2 linked regions of the Homo sapiens genome follow. The protein of the gene in region 2 binds, or shares a complex with, the protein of the main gene of each other region. Each region holds a gene or a part of one and is shown on either strand. Other genes may lie near its edges. The genes, in order: CDC42 and FMNL1. A codon is read from its position in the direction of its gene.

Region 1 (7,098 bases), on a different chromosome or scaffold from region 2:
TTATACAAACGGTTGTATATTTTTAATTTCAAAATTTGAAGGTAACCACAATTGTATATTTCCCTCACAATAAAATCAGAAGCAGGAAAATATAAAGGTGGCAGCTTTACATCTCAGCATTAACAAACTGTAAGTCAACTGTTTAAATGGATGTTATTCTTAAAAGATAATGTAACAAATGAACTCATAAAGCAGTAGCAGATACATCAATATCTTCCCCACCCCAGACTGACAAATACTCCACTACAGCACAGACAGCCAAAGCAACAGCAACACAAAGTTTCACCGCACAAAGGAAAACCAGAAAAGAATCCTCCCTTCCCCATTACACTCTACTAGGTCACCCCTTTTCCATAAGGTTTGTCATGCAATTACAATTAACAATTGATCATAAGAGTAAAATGATGTTTGTGTTACTTTCTCCATCTAGAACTAAGATCTAGAAGTGTTAAAACTCTTGTTATTTTCTCCAAGAGGACATTCTTAAAGCCAGACCAAGTTCCCTTTTGCAATAGTAATCCAAACCAAAAAGCTCTGAGCATCAGGCAACTCAAGCAGCAGAACGTTAAAACAAGTCCAACTTGACTACTGATCACAAAAAATTTATATGATATTGCATTCTTGATCAAAAACTAATACAGAGGTTGCTCTAAGGTGGTGAGTAAAAAGACGCAGAGGCTTTCAAACAGGATGGTTTTATTCCTTTGTTTTTAAACGATCTTTCTACAGTAGTGGGACAGGAAGCAGCAGCAAAGAAGGGAAGGAGAAAACAGTTTAGAATATACAGCACTTCCTTTTGGGTTGAGTTTCCGGAGGCTCGAGGGCAGCTAGGATAGCCTCATCAAACACATTCTTCAGACCTCTCTACAAGACAGAGGGGAGGAGAGAGAATAGCAGCCAGGTTAGAGGATTAGAAAGACTAGCAGGTACAACAGCAGTCCGGATTAAATGAGCTGAATTCACAGAAGCAATGTGCCTTAAGAAAAACGCTAGAATGCTAGATCTTAAGCCCATTATAACCAGGAGAGTAGATAACTGACCAAAAACTTCACCTCAAGCAAGGTTAACTGAGCAGGAAAGCAATTTTTATTAAAATGCAATATGTTGACTTCTAACACATTTTGGAAATAAATCTATTACAATTTCAGGCTTATGTGAATTCAGCCCCTGAATAACTGAAGGACACAAATAGCAGACTAACAGGCATGCTATGTGTTTCTAGGTTCAATGACATATCTGAATGTGATTAATCAAGATTTCAGAGTAAACTGGTTTCCCAGAACGGAAAGGTTCAGACATTTAAAAAGTGTTAATTGTGCAACAGTACCAACTAGAAGGACTTTAAAGAACAGACTCTAAAAACAGCATACACTTCAGTTATTCAGCAATGTTATTAGAGCAAGTAACCACCACCCAAGTCATAAGAAAACAAAGAATGGGGTCCTAGAATGAGTTTTAGCAAGCAGTCCAGTGCTTTAAGATGTCTGCATGGGTATCAGAGCATAAAGCATGGAGTGAAAACGAAGAATATTCTCAGATCTTACGGGGATTAAGATACAGAAATACACTTACACCTCAGCCAGAAACTCCAACATGACAGTGTGACTCAGCATTGGTGGTACTTAGGACCCAGGTCTACAGACTCACCTAAAATCACCTAAATCTGAAGCCACAAGTTTACCACCCAAGGTTGTTTCACATGTTCTTTAGTTTGATCAGTTTGATCCCAAGTAAATATGTCCTAAAAGTCCCAGAACACAGCTCCAATTGTAAGTGCCAACCCCAGACCACCCCAAGTGTTCCCACCTCCACCCTGCCCCCATCCATGACATCCCACAGGACTGGTACCCACATGTCACATTAGACACAAAATAAATCAGAAACAGCAGTAAATTCTTTAAAAGCAGCAAAAGTTAAAAAGCCTTCCTCTTTCTACATCATTTACAAAGTAGAAATGCCACATAAAAGTTAAAATTCCACTGCAATTCTTTCTGCACATCTAGGAACCAACTCTGGCAGTAAAATATAAAAGGAAGGAAGGAGTACAGAAAGGGAAATATACTTTATAAGGAAAAAAAGAGGAGGAGGACTATTAGAAACTGGAGTGTATCCCTTAACAAGAAGGAATTCCTTTCTTGCTTACCATGGACGAAGATCAACAAATGCTCTATGAAACAAAACTAATCTTTGCTTGACCACCATCTGTTTATATTAAGACTTTAGTTTTAGAGGAATCAACAAACAGAATCTGTAAGCCTCAAAGTTCTAGCTCCCAAACACAACCACAGACCCCATTTTCTAACTTCCCCTCTTTTGACTTCTCCATACTTCAAACTCTGGTAAGAAAAATGTACCTGCTAAGACCTTTTAAACTTCATACTCTCTACAAACGGATTTACTATATACACCTGTTGATACTGTAAAAATCTTACATTAAAAGCATCCAATTATCTAAAGCATCACTAGTAACCTAAAAGTGAATCCACAGGGCCTATGTGTCTTCCCTCAAAGCAACCCATATCTAGAGAACAGAGGTATGCATCAGAAGCACACAGAATTAGTGTCTAACATGGACATGAGTGTTTCACACATGACTTTCCCTTGTCTCCCCCAATATACACACACAGGCACACTTTTCTGGGAATGTTACTAAAACACACAGAGAAGCACCAGGCATTTTTTAAAACTCTCAAAACAGTTGCTATGCATGAGAAGGTGTAAAATCTTCTAAACTTTTAAATAACTGCTTCTATAATAGCACTAAACTGCCCAAAAAAACGAGGATTAGAAGATTATGTTTAAATCATCTGATACTAGGCCTCGAAGTTATTTTGAGGGATATCCCAGTTAAGCATAAAAGTTTTATCTGTAAATATCCAACCAAGTACTAAACTTACTATTAAATTATGCACTAGGCCCTATAAACTAAATACCTAGTGCATATGTAATAAGTAATCATATATGCCATTTACCCTAGTATACACGTAGTTAAGAATCCAATAGTGTTTTTTAGAAACACAATAAAAATGAATGAATTACCTGAAAACATAAGCATAAATATAATGAGTTTAATATAATTATTAGAAACCTCCACCCTTCAATCTTGCCCTATTAGGCATGTCTGCTCAGTGTTCAAACTTCAAAGCACCAGTACCAGTAGAACATAAAACTTTTGTGCTAATTATTTCCATAACCTTTTCCTTTGCCCCCAGAACAGTACTCAAAGGACGGAATCAGCGATATCATGAAGGTGAAAAAGTTTAAACCATACACATCAGTTACAAGTCCCATTCCAAATACCCTAACATTGCTCCCTATCTTCAAAATCTGAGTTTCCCATCAAACTACAAAAGGAGTTCCAATTAAATCACTCAAAAACGGCCGGAATGCATGAGGAAGGAATACTTCCAAAAATATAGGAATAGGGACACTATATAAAGCACGCTTGAGAACTGTGGCAGAAATAGCCATGGCTGCCTTCTTTGACATTAAAGTCTCAATTATTATGACTAATTCCCTATCCTGGTTGAATTGCCCAAGAAACAGTATAGTATCAATTGTCAGAATTGGCAAGAAAAGATCAGACATATTCAGATGAAAATTTAAGTGTTTAGAAAAAAAAAAAATCATTCACATCGTCTCTTGCAAGTTTATGCTTATCTGAACCTTTCCTGTAAGGTTTTTGTTTTAACACAACCCTGACCACTACGAATCATTCAGTACAATACGAGAGCTTACCAACACAAGGGGTTTAGGAACTAATAATATTCTCCAAAAAACACAGAGGCCTCTAACAAAAGAACATACAATATGAAGCTGTTCATATTCTTGCTGGGCATCTTTGAGCACTGCTGATCACTGTTAGAAATAACTCCTGTATCCTAATGCTCTAATAAATGACTCGACCATAAATACACATGGGGTTTCATGCCATTCTTACCTGTGTAAGTGCAGAACACTCCACATACTTGACAGCCTTCAGGTCACGGGCCAGCTTTTCAGCAGTCTCTGGAGTGATAGGCTTCTGTTTGTTCTTGGCAAGTTTCTCAATAGTAGAGGGGTCATCTCTGAGATCAATTTGAGTCCCAACAAGCAAGAAAGGAGTCTTTGGACAGTGGTGAGTTATCTCAGGCACCCACTAAAAAAAGGTATTTTAAAATACACCTTTGTTAATCAACAAGCCTCTAATGCTATTTATAACAGGTCAGTAGAAATTCTGAGATGATCTTCTTAGGGCAAGAGTATCTGATCAGCTTACCTTTTCTTTCACGTTTTCAAATGAAGATGGAGAGACCACTGAAAAACAGACTAGAAATACATCTGTTTGTGGATAACTCAGCGGTCGTAATCTGTCATAATCCTCTTGCCCTAGAAAAAAGAAAAATATTGGAGAGAATTCAGCAACTGAATCTTGGTGTCCTCAAAGTGTTAAAAGCATGCTGGTCATTACTCAAAAAGCAACTTACTTATCTAATAAAATGTATGGCTTTGTAATATAATATGTGGGCAATATTCTCAATCAGCTAATTCTACAAACTTCAAGCACTCAGAACAGCAATGAATTTACTATTATGTTATTTGCTTTTATTACCAGTTTGTGGTGTTCAATCTTTGTGTCCATTAGAAACCCAATAATAAATGTAATAATAAACTCTTGCTACAGAAATGGTTAAAAATCAATCCTTGTAATCCCAGCACTTTGGGAGGCCGAGACAGGCGGATCACCTGAGGTCAGGAGTTCAAGACCAGCCTGGCCAACATGATGAAGCCTCATCTCTACTAAAAATATAAAAATTAGCCGGGTGTGGTGGTGCACATCTGTAATCCCAGCTACTTGGAAGGCTGAGGCAGAAGAATCACGTGAACCCAGAAGGCGGAGGTTGCAGTGAGCCGAGATGGCATCACTGTACTCCAGTCTGGGTGACAGAGTGAGACTCCATCTCAGATATGGTAAAGAAACAATCACAGTGAAATCATCTAAGGAAAGAAAAACCTCACTGAAACCCAGATGACAAAATCCACTGCCCATCATGACTACAAACAGAGGTTCACATATTTAGTTAATGCGTGTATATAAGACCGGTATCTGAAACTGATAAAGCCTAGAAAACAAATTTAGCAAGAATTAATCGATACTCAAAATAATAAAAATACTTAGAATTAACTTAATCAGAGGCAAAAGACTTGGATAACAAAAAAATTCAAAACTGCTGAAAGAAATTAAAGAAGACATAAATAAATGGAAACACATCCCACATTCATGAACTGGAAGACTTAATATTGTTGACATGTCAACATTATCCAAAGCAACCTACAGACTCAATGCAATCCCTATCAAAATCCCAACAAGGGATAGTAATCTTGAAACAAGGGACAATAGACAAAATAATCTTGAAAAAGAATAAAGCTGAAGCACTCCCATTTCCTGATTTCAAAACTTACTACAAGGCTACAATAATCAAAACAGTGCGGTATTGGCATAGGGAGATATATAAGACAATGGAATAGACTAGAGAACCCAGAAATAAACCCTTACATATGTGGGCAAATGATTTTTCTTTTTTTTTTTTTTTTTTAGACAGAGTCTCACTCTATCACCCAGGCTGGAGTGCAGTGGCACAATCTCGGCTCACTGCAACCTCCACCTCCCCAGTTCAAGAGACTCTCCTGCCTCCACCTTCTGAGTAGCTGGGACTATAGGCACACACCACCGCACCAGGCTAATTTTTGTATTTTTAGTAGACACAGGGTTTCACCATGTTGGCCAGGCTGGTCTTAAACTTCTGACCTCAGGTGATCTGCCCACCTCAGCCTCCCAAAGTGCTAAGATTACAGGTGTGAGCCACCGTGCCTAGCCTAGCTCAAATAATTTTTGATAAGGGTGCCAAGACCATTCAGTGGTAAAAGGACTCTTCAATAAATGGTGCTGAGAAAATGACATATTCACAAGCAAAAGACAAAGATGAAACCTTACCTAATACTATATACTAAAATTAACTCAAAATGGATAAAAGGTCTAAATGTTAGACCTAAAACTTTAAAACTCCCAGAAAACATAGGGCAAAAGATTCAGGTGGACTTGGCAATAATTTGTTTGGATATCACACCAAACCACCAAAAAATAGACAAACTTCATGAAGCTGTGAAAATTTTATACATCAGAAAATAGTATCAACAGAATAAAAACGCAACCCACAAAATAGGAAAAAATATATGCAAATCGTGTATGTGATAAGAGATTAATACCCGGAATCTACAAAGAACTCCTAAAACTTACCCCAAAAAAAAAATCCCAATTCAAAAATGGGCAAAGAACTTGATTAAACAGACCTTTCTCCAAAGATATATAAATGGCCATAAGATGCTCAACATCACTAATCATTAAGGAAATACAAATCAAAACCACAATTAGATACCACCTCACACTAATTAGGATGGCTACAATTAAAAAAAAAAAAAAAAAAAAAAAAACAGGAAATAAGTGTCGAACAGAAGAATGTGACTATATCAAACCCCACGTACTGTTGGTAGGAATATAAAATGGGACAGCCACTGTGGAAAACAATACGGAGGTTCCTCAAAAAAATTAAAAACATGATCCAACAATTCCACTTCTGGGTATATACCCCAAAAGAACTGAAAGCAGGGTGTCAACAAGGTATCTGTATACCCATGTTGATAGCAACATTATTCAAAATAGCTAAAACGTGGAAGCAATTCATAGCACCAGTATTAAAACTGGAACCCAAACATCCATCAACTTGTTAATGGATAAACAAAACTGTGATATATTCATAGAACAGAATAACACTCGGCAATCAAAAGAAACAACTACCAATACACACAACATGGACAACTCTCACAAACATTATGCTATGTAAAAATAGTCACACAAAAGACTACATATTGTATGGTTCCATTTATATGAAACCCTAGAAAAGCAAAACAGTAGAAACAAAGAAAGCAGATCAGTGGTTGCCTGGAACCAGGTCAAGGGACAGGGCTGACTGCAAAGGGAACCCAGAAATAAACACTCACATATATGGTCAAATAATTTTTGATAAGGGTGCCAACACCATTCAGTGGTAAAAGAACTCA
Region 2 (10,058 bases):
CCCCTGGGGTGCCCTTTCAACCCCCAAAGACCCAATGATACCAAAGGATTCTGGGAGACTCAGGTGGGTCCCACAGCCCAGCCATGCCTCAAGGTGCCAGTCAGAGCATGGGCAGGAAGGGGAGGGGAAGCTGTCCTGGACACCTCCAGGAGGTGGTCCACAAGCACAGCCTTGTGCAGGGGGCAGGGGGAGTAGGAAGGGGAAGCTCCAGGAGCTGCCTGGAAGCAGAGCCTTCCTAGGCCCAGAGAGGAAGATCTGAGCCCTCACTCACCCAATGTGGTTGGTCCTCAGGGAGGTCTCCAGCTCCCGTAGCACCTGCGTGGACTCCTGAACTCGCCTCTTAAACTGGGGACCGAGAACAGGGAAGGCTGGTGGGTGGAGCCCGGCCTCCCACAGGCCCACCAAGTCCTGAGGCAGCAGGCAGCAGCGCCCACCCTCCTCCAACTGGCACAAGTGGCCTTTCATGCTCAGCCTCCCCCACCACCTCCACACACCTGCCCAGCAGAATAAGAACTCACAGGCTACATGTGCTCCCCCATACATAGACAAGCAGGGTACACACACCCCCGATACATGGGCACACAAGGTATACACATGCACACACACAAAGAGGCAGAGTGTGTGTGCGCACACACACACACAGCACATGAACATCCATATACCTGCACTCTAAATACAGACATAGAATATCCACACATCCATACATGGACACACACACACACACATTCTCTCTCTCTCCTAGATATGGACTCAATGGTACACACACACATCCATAAGTGGACAAAGTACACACATAGTATACACACACACCTATGTATGGACATATGGGCTGCACATGTGTATACACACAGTATAAGTACACAGAATGTGTCCATGTAAGCACACACAGGATGTACAGAGGAATATCTAAAGTGCACACCCAGGGCACTCTCATTCCCCTATAAATACACAGACACACAAACACACACACACACTCATACATGCACCCACACACGCACATAGAAAAGTCTGTACACACAGTTACTCCAGCTGCCCAGAGCTTGGAAAATGTGGGGGAAAGGGACAGAGTAAAGAGGGGAGACATGTACCCCCAGGTTGGACATCCAATCAGCTGCTACCTTTCGGCTGACCCCACCAGTATCCACATAGCTCTTCAGCTTCTGGATGTAGGCTGCGGGGGGATTCTTGACTTGAAACCGCTCCTGGGGAGATGGAATGGGGTGTACAGAAAACCAGCCAGAGCTACCCCAGGGCAAATGACCAGTTCTCGTCCCAGTGTCCCATTCTCAGCTCCGATCTGAGGTCCCAGGCTTTCTTAAGACGCCTCTGAAATACCAAAGGTATAAACCCAAACAGTCCACCAAGCCACTTTCTTTTTTTTTCTTTTCTTTTATCTTTCTCTTTTCTTGCCCTGTGGCCCAGGCTGGAGTGCTGTGGCACGAACATAGTTCACTGGAGCCTCCTACTCCCGGGCTCAAGCGATCCTCCTACCTCAGCCTCCCAGGTAGCTGGGACTACGGGTGTGCACCACCACGCCCAGCTAGCATCGGGCCACTTTAAAAACCCCTGGCCTAGGCCTAGCCTGCCCTTCCTGTATGGGCTCCCAGGCCACAGCCCTGACACAGCTTTGGGGTGGACTATGCAGGGGTCAGTCCTGCCGTAGGCCCCGCCCTGGGGTGGGAAGGAACTCAGTCTAGCCAGCAGGTGGTGCCCTCCCTGGACCAGAGCTGGCATACGGCGGGGAAGGACGGCTGGAGGTGCCTCGTGAAGGGGACCCAGCACCTGGGTAGGACTCGGACCCAGCCGCCCTGCACATCTGCGTTGGCAGGAACCTGCGTGCTCCTCTCCTGTGCTCAGTGATGCAATTCCTAATCCCCCCACCCCACTGCAGGCTCCAGCGGCCACTCACACAAAGAGGCAGGGACCACGGCAAAGACCCCTCCCCAGAGGGGCCCCCACCCTTCCAACCCAAACCCCTCAGATTCGCCGAGCCACCCCTCAGACTTTCACTTCTTCCAGCCCTTTGAGCCCCCAACCTCTGAGATGTCAGGCTGAGCTGCTCCAAGGGGACCCCTACCAGAGACTCCAGGGGCAGCTCTCCACCCTCTTCCCACTTCCCAGCCCTTACCCCTGGACTGCTGCCCAGCCGGCTCAGGCCATCTGCTTCATTAGCAGGAGGCAAAGGCCCAGCCTTGGCTCCCAGGGGAGGCTCTCAGCTCCCAACTCCCCACCCCCAGCCTCTGCAGCCTCCCTCCTTCACAGAATCCCTGCGGCAGCCGAGCCCCACCCAGCCCAGCGCTGGGAGAGGGTCGGCCCATGGCCGACCGCAGCCCTTGAAGCTGGAGGGGTGGGGACAGCTGAGTGACCCGTGAGTCCAGGCACCTGGACGGAGCACCAAAGCAGGGGTCCAAAGTGGCTGGCCTTGGGGAGTTGCTGGTCAACTGCAGCTCCTCTGGACCCAAGGCAAAAGGGCAGGAATTCCCGCCCCTTCCTCCCTCCCTCCCATGGGGTCAGGTGAAGATGTCCAACCCCAGGGTCGCCCTCTCCCTTCCCCAGTCCAGAGAGGTTTCTCAGGAAGCTCAGCAGGAGGACAGTGACAGTGCGAGGCCCCAGCTGCCCCAGCCTGAACCAGCTCTGCCAGCTCCTCTGAAGCTGACCCAGCCCTGCTAGTGACTCACAAGGTCTTTTGGGGAGTTCAAGAGAAAGGGATTTGGGAGTCCTGCAGACCCCAGCACCCTCCCCAGGTGCTACATTGGCCACTGAGCAGAGTCTTGGCTCCATGGGCAGTATGGCGGTGCCCCTCTCCCCATAGCCCCAGCCTGGTCAGGGTGGGGTACTGACAGTGGGAGGGAAGGGGTGGCTGGGCAGTGCTGGCACCTACCTGATCACAGATGAGCTCCCACTTCTTCTCGTTGTCATACTGGCTCAGCAGCTGGACCTTGTCTGGGGGCAAGTTCATGCAGTTCTGGGGACAGGGAGGACAAAGACCCCTGAGCCTGGGGCCCCAACAAGGGGAGAGGGGAGAATGGGCATTTGGGGGAAACCCACTTGGCTCCCTAGGAGGTGCATCACCCCCATGAATCCTCTGACCCTAGGAGATACGTAGTGTTATCCAATGAGAAGACCAAGGCCAAGAGAGACAGAGCACCTTTCCCGGGGCACACCAGCTAGAAGGGAGAGCAGGATTTGAATCCGAGTCTGCCTGCGCTGTGTCACCCCCCACACCGCCTCCCTGGCCTGCCTGGTGTGCAGGCAGGAGCGTGGGTTGTCAGCCTACCTCTCTGGGGACCTGAGACACTTCTGGGCCCCAGTTTTCCTGTTGGGGCATCATCTCTTCCCCCATTCTGGTGGGAAGCTAACAGGGGAGCCATCACCAGTCAGGCCAAAGTGTGGCCAGTGGCCAGTGGCCAGTGTCCCACCTCCACGTGCCACCAGATCCCACGTGTACACAGACCAGGCCCAGGGCACCAGTGCCTCACGAACACCAGGAAATCTCTTGCAAGGAGAGTGGACAGCAGCCTTCTCCTCATCCCTCTCCAGCCCCCTCCCACTTGGAGGAGAAGGCTGAGAAAGGAAGGAGAGGGCTGGGGGAGCTGAGGGCGGCCATGTCAGCAGGCAGGGAGTTCCAGATCACAGCTGCAGGGGCGGGGAGATTTGCGGGGAAGGTCACTCGGCCACAGCACTGGGGAGAAGAGCCAGTGCCCTGGGTCTGTGGTGGGGGCCGCCCAGCTGGGACTCCCCCAGGAGCTGAGAAAGGTCAACAGAGCTCTGCCTGGGTCCTCCTCCCCTGGCCACAGATGACAAGGGTACGGTGCCCCTGCCACCACGGAGCAGGTTAGCGCCAGCCCAGGGCTGCCGAATCAACCAGGTGTCAATAGCACCAGGGGCTTTCTGGACCCCCAGACTTGGCTTGTCTCCCTGACAGACCCAAAAGATGAGGCCAGTTCCCTTCAATTTAGTAAACCCCAGGTTATTGAGAGCCTTCTATATGTCTGGCCCAAAAAGACAGTTCCTGCCCTCAAGGAGATCTGAGTTGAGTAAGAGTCTCCATCGGGGATGTGGGAGACCCTGAGGGGCTCACCAGCCATGGTGGTTCACGCTCCACACCCTCAGTCATGTGGCTCTGCAGAGACGCCACAGCTGGAGCAGTCAGAGGGCCACACCCACCTGAGACTCCCCAGCCAGCTTCCCCTCCAGGGTGCTGGGCCTAGTTCTGGGGCTCCAGCCAGACCTTACCCCCAAAATCACTGCCTTGGGTCAGGCCCAGACAACAGGAAGCTGGGTGCGCTCAGCCTCCATTGCCTAAGCTTTCCGGCCAGGCCCTGCTGGAGAGGTGAAACTGCCCCTCCGCCAGGCCCCCCGCCCCCAGCGGCTGAAGGGGGTGGAATACGTCATTCCTCTCCCCTATTGCGAAAGTGAGCCTGGATTGAGGAAACCACCGCTGTCTCATCAGCCGCCCTCCCCCAGCCCTCCAAGGGCCAGGACAGCTCCTGCTACCACAGGGGCAGGGGGTGGGGGAACCGCCCAGGAGTACAAAGGAGGCGAGGTCATTCTCTGTCTCTCTGTCCCTGTCCATCTGTCTGTCTCTCTCGATGATGTCTCTCAGTCACCCCCACCCCACAGAGACAAAGGGTGGGGCAGGGCTAAGGTGGGAGCAAGGTGGAGAAAAGGGACAAAGAGGAGAGACAGGGCCAGCAGTGCCAGGGAAACTGGAGCCGTGGCCGGCACAAAAGACGGTGGCCAGGGAGTAAGGGGATGGCTGAGCCCAGCACAGAGCCACAGAGGGGACAGCTGCTTCCCGACATGAATCCTCCCAGGCCCTCACCCACCCAGGGAACTTTATGGTTCTGGAATGGCCCCAGCGGCATTTCTAGGGGCAGTAACTAGTCATAATGACATCTCCAACAGTCAGGTGGCCAGCTCCACCAGAATGCCTACTGTGCAAGGCACTGCTCCGAGCCCTGCGCGCCGACGACTGCCTTCCACCCTCACTGCCGTCACTGGCACCGTTAACATTCCCACCTCACAGGTGCAGGCACAGATTAGTTTAGTGACCTGCCCAAGGTTACGAAGCCAGTAAGAGGAGAGCTGGGCTGGCTTTGAGCCTGGAGCTGACTCTGAGCCACCACCTGGGTCCACTCCCCCAGGACAGCCCCCTGGTTGTTACTGCCGAGGGGAGGCCTCTGCTGGGGCCTGGAGCACCTGTCTGAACAGTGGTGGAGGGCAGGGTGCCCATGCCCCTTCCCCACCTGGGCCTTCTCAGGCCCCCAGGCCCACATGCCAGCCTGCCAGACAGGCTAAATTTAGGCTCAGAAATCAGAAATAGCTCTGACAGCGCCGAACACTAATTAGCAGCTGCTCCTCAGCTGTGGCTGTGCCCACCGAGGAGCCAGGCACTCCAGGGAGTAGGAGAGGGGCCATCAGATGCCACTCACTCGGGGTGGAGTGAGGCCACCCTGAAAACAGGAACAGACCCCCAGACCAGGGCCTTCAGCGAGGCAGCAGCACCATGGGATGGGGGGCTGGGGGACACACGGAGAGTTGGCTGACAGTGCTCAAGTAGGAGGGGAGGGGCTGGCAGTCCAGGTGGGCGGGATACCTGCCTCCTGAGGGGGGCAGGGAGGGACAGCTATGAGCTGCCACATGGAGGACCTGGAGCTGGCTTCAAAAGACCCAGGCTCTGGGCCCAACTAGCCCTACAGCTTCTTTGCCCCCTTGGACCTCAGCTTCCTCCTCCATAAAATGGGCGCACTCCCTCACCGGAGCCTCACACTCACGGAGCTCCTGGAACACTCAGTGAGAAGCTGAGTTTGGATTTAACAAAGCTCTTCAGTGGCCTAACACTATGAAGAAGCACTTCACAGAGGCAGAAGAGGTGGAGGGGCAGGGGTCCATGGAAGACCCCAGGGTAGGGGATGGTAGGGTGAGCAGAAGTTTGTGAAAACATCCAGAAACACAGACTTGTCTCCAAGGCTTTGGCCAAACCTTAACTAGCCTCAGCCTACTTTCCCTGCTGCCTTTAGTGCTTTGGGCCAGATGAGGAAAGAGACAGGATTCATCTTTTAGGGTGTGGCCGAGAAAAGGAACTGATTCCCCACATCTTTCTATTAGAATGTGTGGGGACCATTCTCCTCCCTCCCTGCCCTGAGTGTGAGAGGGGACCCCCAGCATCTGCTCACCTAAGACCAGCCCCCAAAAGACACTGCTAAGAGCCCTTCCCCCACCTCCCCCACACCAGTGCTTACTTCTGAGACAGTGTCCCAGGAGGCTGAAGGGGCTGCGTCCACATCTGGACACAGCCACACCCTAGGGTTTCACTTTCAGTTTGAGCGGAGCCTACGTCTCAGTCCACCTGCCCATCTCTCCCTATGGCCTAGCCCTTCAAGCCCCAGGGTACCCCTGAACTTGGACATCAATCCCAGTCTCAGGCCAGCCCCACAGGCTTTCCTCAGCCCGATGGGCCCAGAAGCTGAGCCTGTCCCCCAGCCCCCACTCCCCCATCCATCTCCCTGCCACCTGCCCACCTCTATATGGTCTCAACCTTAGTTGTAGTGTTCTCGGCACATATCCAAACACAATCAATTTTACCTCCTTTTTTAAACTTTGGCATATAGATTTTCTGGGGCTCTTATAAGCAATTCCAGGCTTACAGGAGATCTATGAGGAGACCCAGCCCCAGGATCAGGTGCTGAGGACCCAAAGAGCTAACAGCTTCTCCCATCAGAGTTCAAGGGTCCCCACAGCTGGGACAAGGGCAAGCAGGGTGGAAGCCACTACCTATATCATCCAGGCTGGTAGGAGGAAAACAACACCGACAACAGTAACAATAACAAACGCTCCCCAGACACTTTTTTTCACTCAGAATTAATCTCTCAATCCCAAACACTGGGTGCTAGGTGCCGTTCTAAGCACTTTACATCAAAACTCATTTAAACCTCAACAAGCCTACAAAATAGATACTGTTATAATCCCTATTTCACAAATGGGAAACTGAGACTCAAGGAGGTTAAGGTGCTTGCCCAGGGTGGCCTCGGTGGCAAGCTAGCAAGGAAGACCCGGCTTCCTCCAAAGAAGGAGCAGCCGGGGAATGGGAAATGTGGGTCCTGGCCCCCAGGGGTCTTCTGCAGACAGCCTGGCCCAGATCCCCCATCTGAGGAACCAGGAACAGCCAGCTCCACTTCCTGCCACCCAGCGCCCCACGCTTCCTGTTGTTGCCCACACAGAGCTCTTACTCACTGGGGAACCCCCCCACCAGCACACCCTCTCTCAGGGGGAAGTGGAGGCCTCCCCTCCCCCTCCCATGTGCACACTGCTACCGTTAGCACCATCGCTGCCCCACCCTCCAGGAGAGGTAGGCCCTCCCTCCAGCGGTTTCCGGCCACCAGGCAGTTTTCGGTCTGGGCCCCACTGCTGGTGACCTGCATAACGGTGGGGAGGTTGCCTGGCCCTCACTAGCTAAGGATCTGGGGCTCCTGGGGAGTGCACAGTAACCTTGGGTGCTCTTGGTAGTGGAGGTGGAGGGAGGGGACAGGCAGGGTCTGGGCTCCCTCCGCTAAATGGGCCCTGAGATGGAGAGGACCAGATCAGCTCCAGCTTTATCCCCTTTCTCACAGTGGAGGGGGGTTACTGAGCATCTGCTCTGTGTCAGGCACTGTGCGAAGTCCTCTATTTCACCCTCTCGACAATCCTAGGAGGCCAGCAGATGCCATTATTATTCTCTTTTTACAGGTGAGGGAAACTACAGCTCAGAGAAGTTAAGTAACTTGTCCAGGGCCATGCAGGTAGTGACAAAAATGAATCTCAACCCCCAAACATCATGACCCCAAAGCTCAGGAAACGTCCCTGCCTTTCCCATAAGTAACCCCTGTCCCCTCAAAGGCCCCCCAAGCCACCTTCCAGGGCTCCATGTTCCCAGGAAAAAGGCAGAGGTAGCCCTGAGAGCACCTGCTTCTACCCGTCTCACCCAGCTCTCTGCCAGTCAGCCCCAGATGTCACTGTGAATCATGCCCACCACATCCGTGGCTTTCCAGGGTTAGTATGTGCCAGCCCTGCCTGCTGGGAATGTCACCCCTCCCCTCTGCCCAGCCCAACATCAGACCACATGGCCACATCCCCCCGGAGATCCTCTGTCCTGCAAATGGCAGGCATAAGGCCTGAGCGACCCCATGGCTCCAGGTCCCCACACTTCATCTGCCCTGTCCCGGAGGTGGGAGTGGCCAGGGGGCAGTGCCTCAGTTGCAGTCCCTCCTGCCCTTTACTGCCAGCCCCAGAAGGGAAGGGCCCCAGCTGCAAGCAGGACTCCAGGCCCACACCCAACATGGGGCCATCCTGACCTCCCCACACAGCCTGGCCAGGCACCCAGGCCTCTGGGCACAAGCCAAGAGCACCCATCAGGCAAATTCCTCTCCACTGCTACTGGATGCCAGCATGGCTTTTGGCCTCACGTACACCACCCCTGACACCTTCCCTTGATCCCTCTGCCCCAAGGTTATGGGATTCTCCCTGCCCGGCAGATCAGGGGTGTCCCAGGCCCAGGTGTAAGTGTGGCTCTTCTGGCAGGCCTGGAAAGGTCGCCTTGTCATCCCAGTCCCTGACCCTGCGTGCCTCCCAGGGGAAGGCATGAAGGGGCTGGAAGACACCCAGCCTTGGGCATGGGCGTAGGAGAGGCGAGAGCTTGGCGCCCCGCTGGCTGGTGTTCCCACCATCACAGCAGGCCCGTGGGGCTGGGCAGCCATCGCTCCTCTGCTGTTGCTAAGGCAGCAGCCGGAAACCCTGGCTCAACCTGCTCTTTCTCTCCACCCCCATTTTAAGCAGGGGGCACCCCTTTCTTTCACAGCTTTCTTGGAAAGGTAGCCCCCCACCACCCACCCTTGCATGGGAGAAGGGCTCCCTGCACCTCCTGTCTGGCTGTAAGTGGGGACACCCCTCACCCACAAGAGAGGTCCTACAGCCAGGAGAGGAAGGAGAGTTTGGGGTATCAGGATCCTATGCCCCACCAGGGACAAAAGGGGAAGGAAGAGGTTCCCTGGGGCCGCTGGACTACATCCCTGAGGGCAGGACTGTGCTTCTCCCATTGAGACTGGGGACCACTGATGGCGGTGGGCCCCTCCCCTCAGCAATCTAAGGTTCTTCTCCTCTTAGACACTGACCGAGGACAGGACTCAGCTCTGGCCATGGTGGTTCGGGTGGGGGTTCACATAGCGACCAACTCTGCGATACACACTGCCAGACCTGAGGGTTGAACCAACTCTTTAGCCCTGGGCAGCCTCAGGCAGAGGTCAAGGTTGTCACCCTGGGGCAAGCCTCATGCCCCTGCTGGTGGGGAATGAGAGGAACCAGGGTCTTAGCCAAGTGTCCTTAGATTGGGTTTAACCTGCCCACAACAGGATATAAGACAGGCTGAGCCACCCCGGGAAGAAGGTATAAACACACTGGGGTTCCTGGGCACCTGGTAGGGGGTAAGCCCTGGTGGGTGCTGCTACCCTAAATTTCTGCTAGGCACCTCCACTTTCTCCACCAGCACACCCTCTCTGACCCACCTGTGGGTGTCCCCCCTCCACATCCTGGTACTCAGGGACTCCCAGTGGCATTTAGTGTCAGACTCAGCCAATCACAGCCACAAATCCAAGCAGGGCAAACAAGTCCTACACACACATCAGAACCTCACCATTTGACTTGTGGATTTTCCCCTGGTCTGAATTATTCACAGGGCTCCTCCCCATCAGCGTGCTAAACAGAAGATTGGGGTCAGGACCTCACCCCAAGAGCCCACACCCGCGACCATAGACACACACTTGGCGGAAAGACAGACCCATGTCCCTCCAACCAGGTTGGCAGGGGTCCAAGGACCCACCACCAATGCAGGCTCTCCAGATGGCCCCCAGAGACTGTGTCTCCTCATTCTCCCCCCTCCCCCATCTGCTCAGCTCAGCTCAGCTTTGTGAAGTCCTATGCTTGGGGAGCGGGGAGCAGGGCAGGTGGAGAGATGGAGAAGTCAGGGGCCAGCCTGGTGTGAGGCGTCCCTCAGTGTCCCTGCCCTCCTCTAATCAAGCAAGGTG

Evidence for each region.
Region 1: the proteins of FMNL1 (region 2) and CDC42 are in contact, whole or in part, in a crystal structure (PDB 4YDH), measured with the Homo sapiens proteins. Residues at the interface, in NP_005883.3 of Homo sapiens: Cys45 (codon at 2,962), Met46 (codon at 2,959), Asn47 (codon at 2,956), Leu48 (codon at 2,953), Pro49 (codon at 2,950), Lys52 (codon at 2,941), Leu56 (codon at 2,929), Tyr59 (codon at 2,920), Lys63 (codon at 2,908), Glu66 (codon at 2,899), Leu67 (codon at 2,896), Asp70 (codon at 2,887), Gln71 (codon at 2,884), Phe74, Tyr83, Arg122, Glu123, Glu125, Thr126, Ser127, Leu128, Arg129, Thr130, Asn131, His132, Ile133, Val136, His228, Met232, Arg235; in NP_001034891.1 of Homo sapiens: Val36, Phe37, Glu62, Asp63, Tyr64, Asp65, Arg66, Leu67, Arg68, Pro69, Leu70, Pro73, Lys94, Glu95, Lys96, Pro99, Glu100, His103, His104, Lys131, Asn132, Gln134.

The regions. Positions count from the first base shown.
Region 1 is NC_000001.11:22,083,709-22,090,806, reverse strand, and holds part of CDC42 (cell division control protein 42 homolog isoform 1 precursor), read right to left. Parts: intron 4,369-7,098; coding exon 4,259-4,368; intron 4,139-4,258; coding exon 3,941-4,138; intron 865-3,940; coding exon of another isoform or gene 775-864; exon of another isoform or gene 1-774. UniProt on the Homo sapiens protein: Plasma membrane-associated small GTPase which cycles between an active GTP-bound and an inactive GDP-bound state. In active state binds to a variety of effector proteins to regulate cellular responses. Involved in epithelial cell polarization processes.
Region 2 is NC_000017.11:45,223,511-45,233,568, reverse strand, and holds part of FMNL1 (formin-like protein 1), read right to left. Parts: intron 2,966-10,058; coding exon 2,882-2,965; intron 1,203-2,881; coding exon 1,089-1,202; intron 346-1,088; coding exon 272-345; intron 1-271. UniProt on the Homo sapiens protein: May play a role in the control of cell motility and survival of macrophages. Plays a role in the regulation of cell morphology and cytoskeletal organization. Required in the cortical actin filament dynamics and cell shape.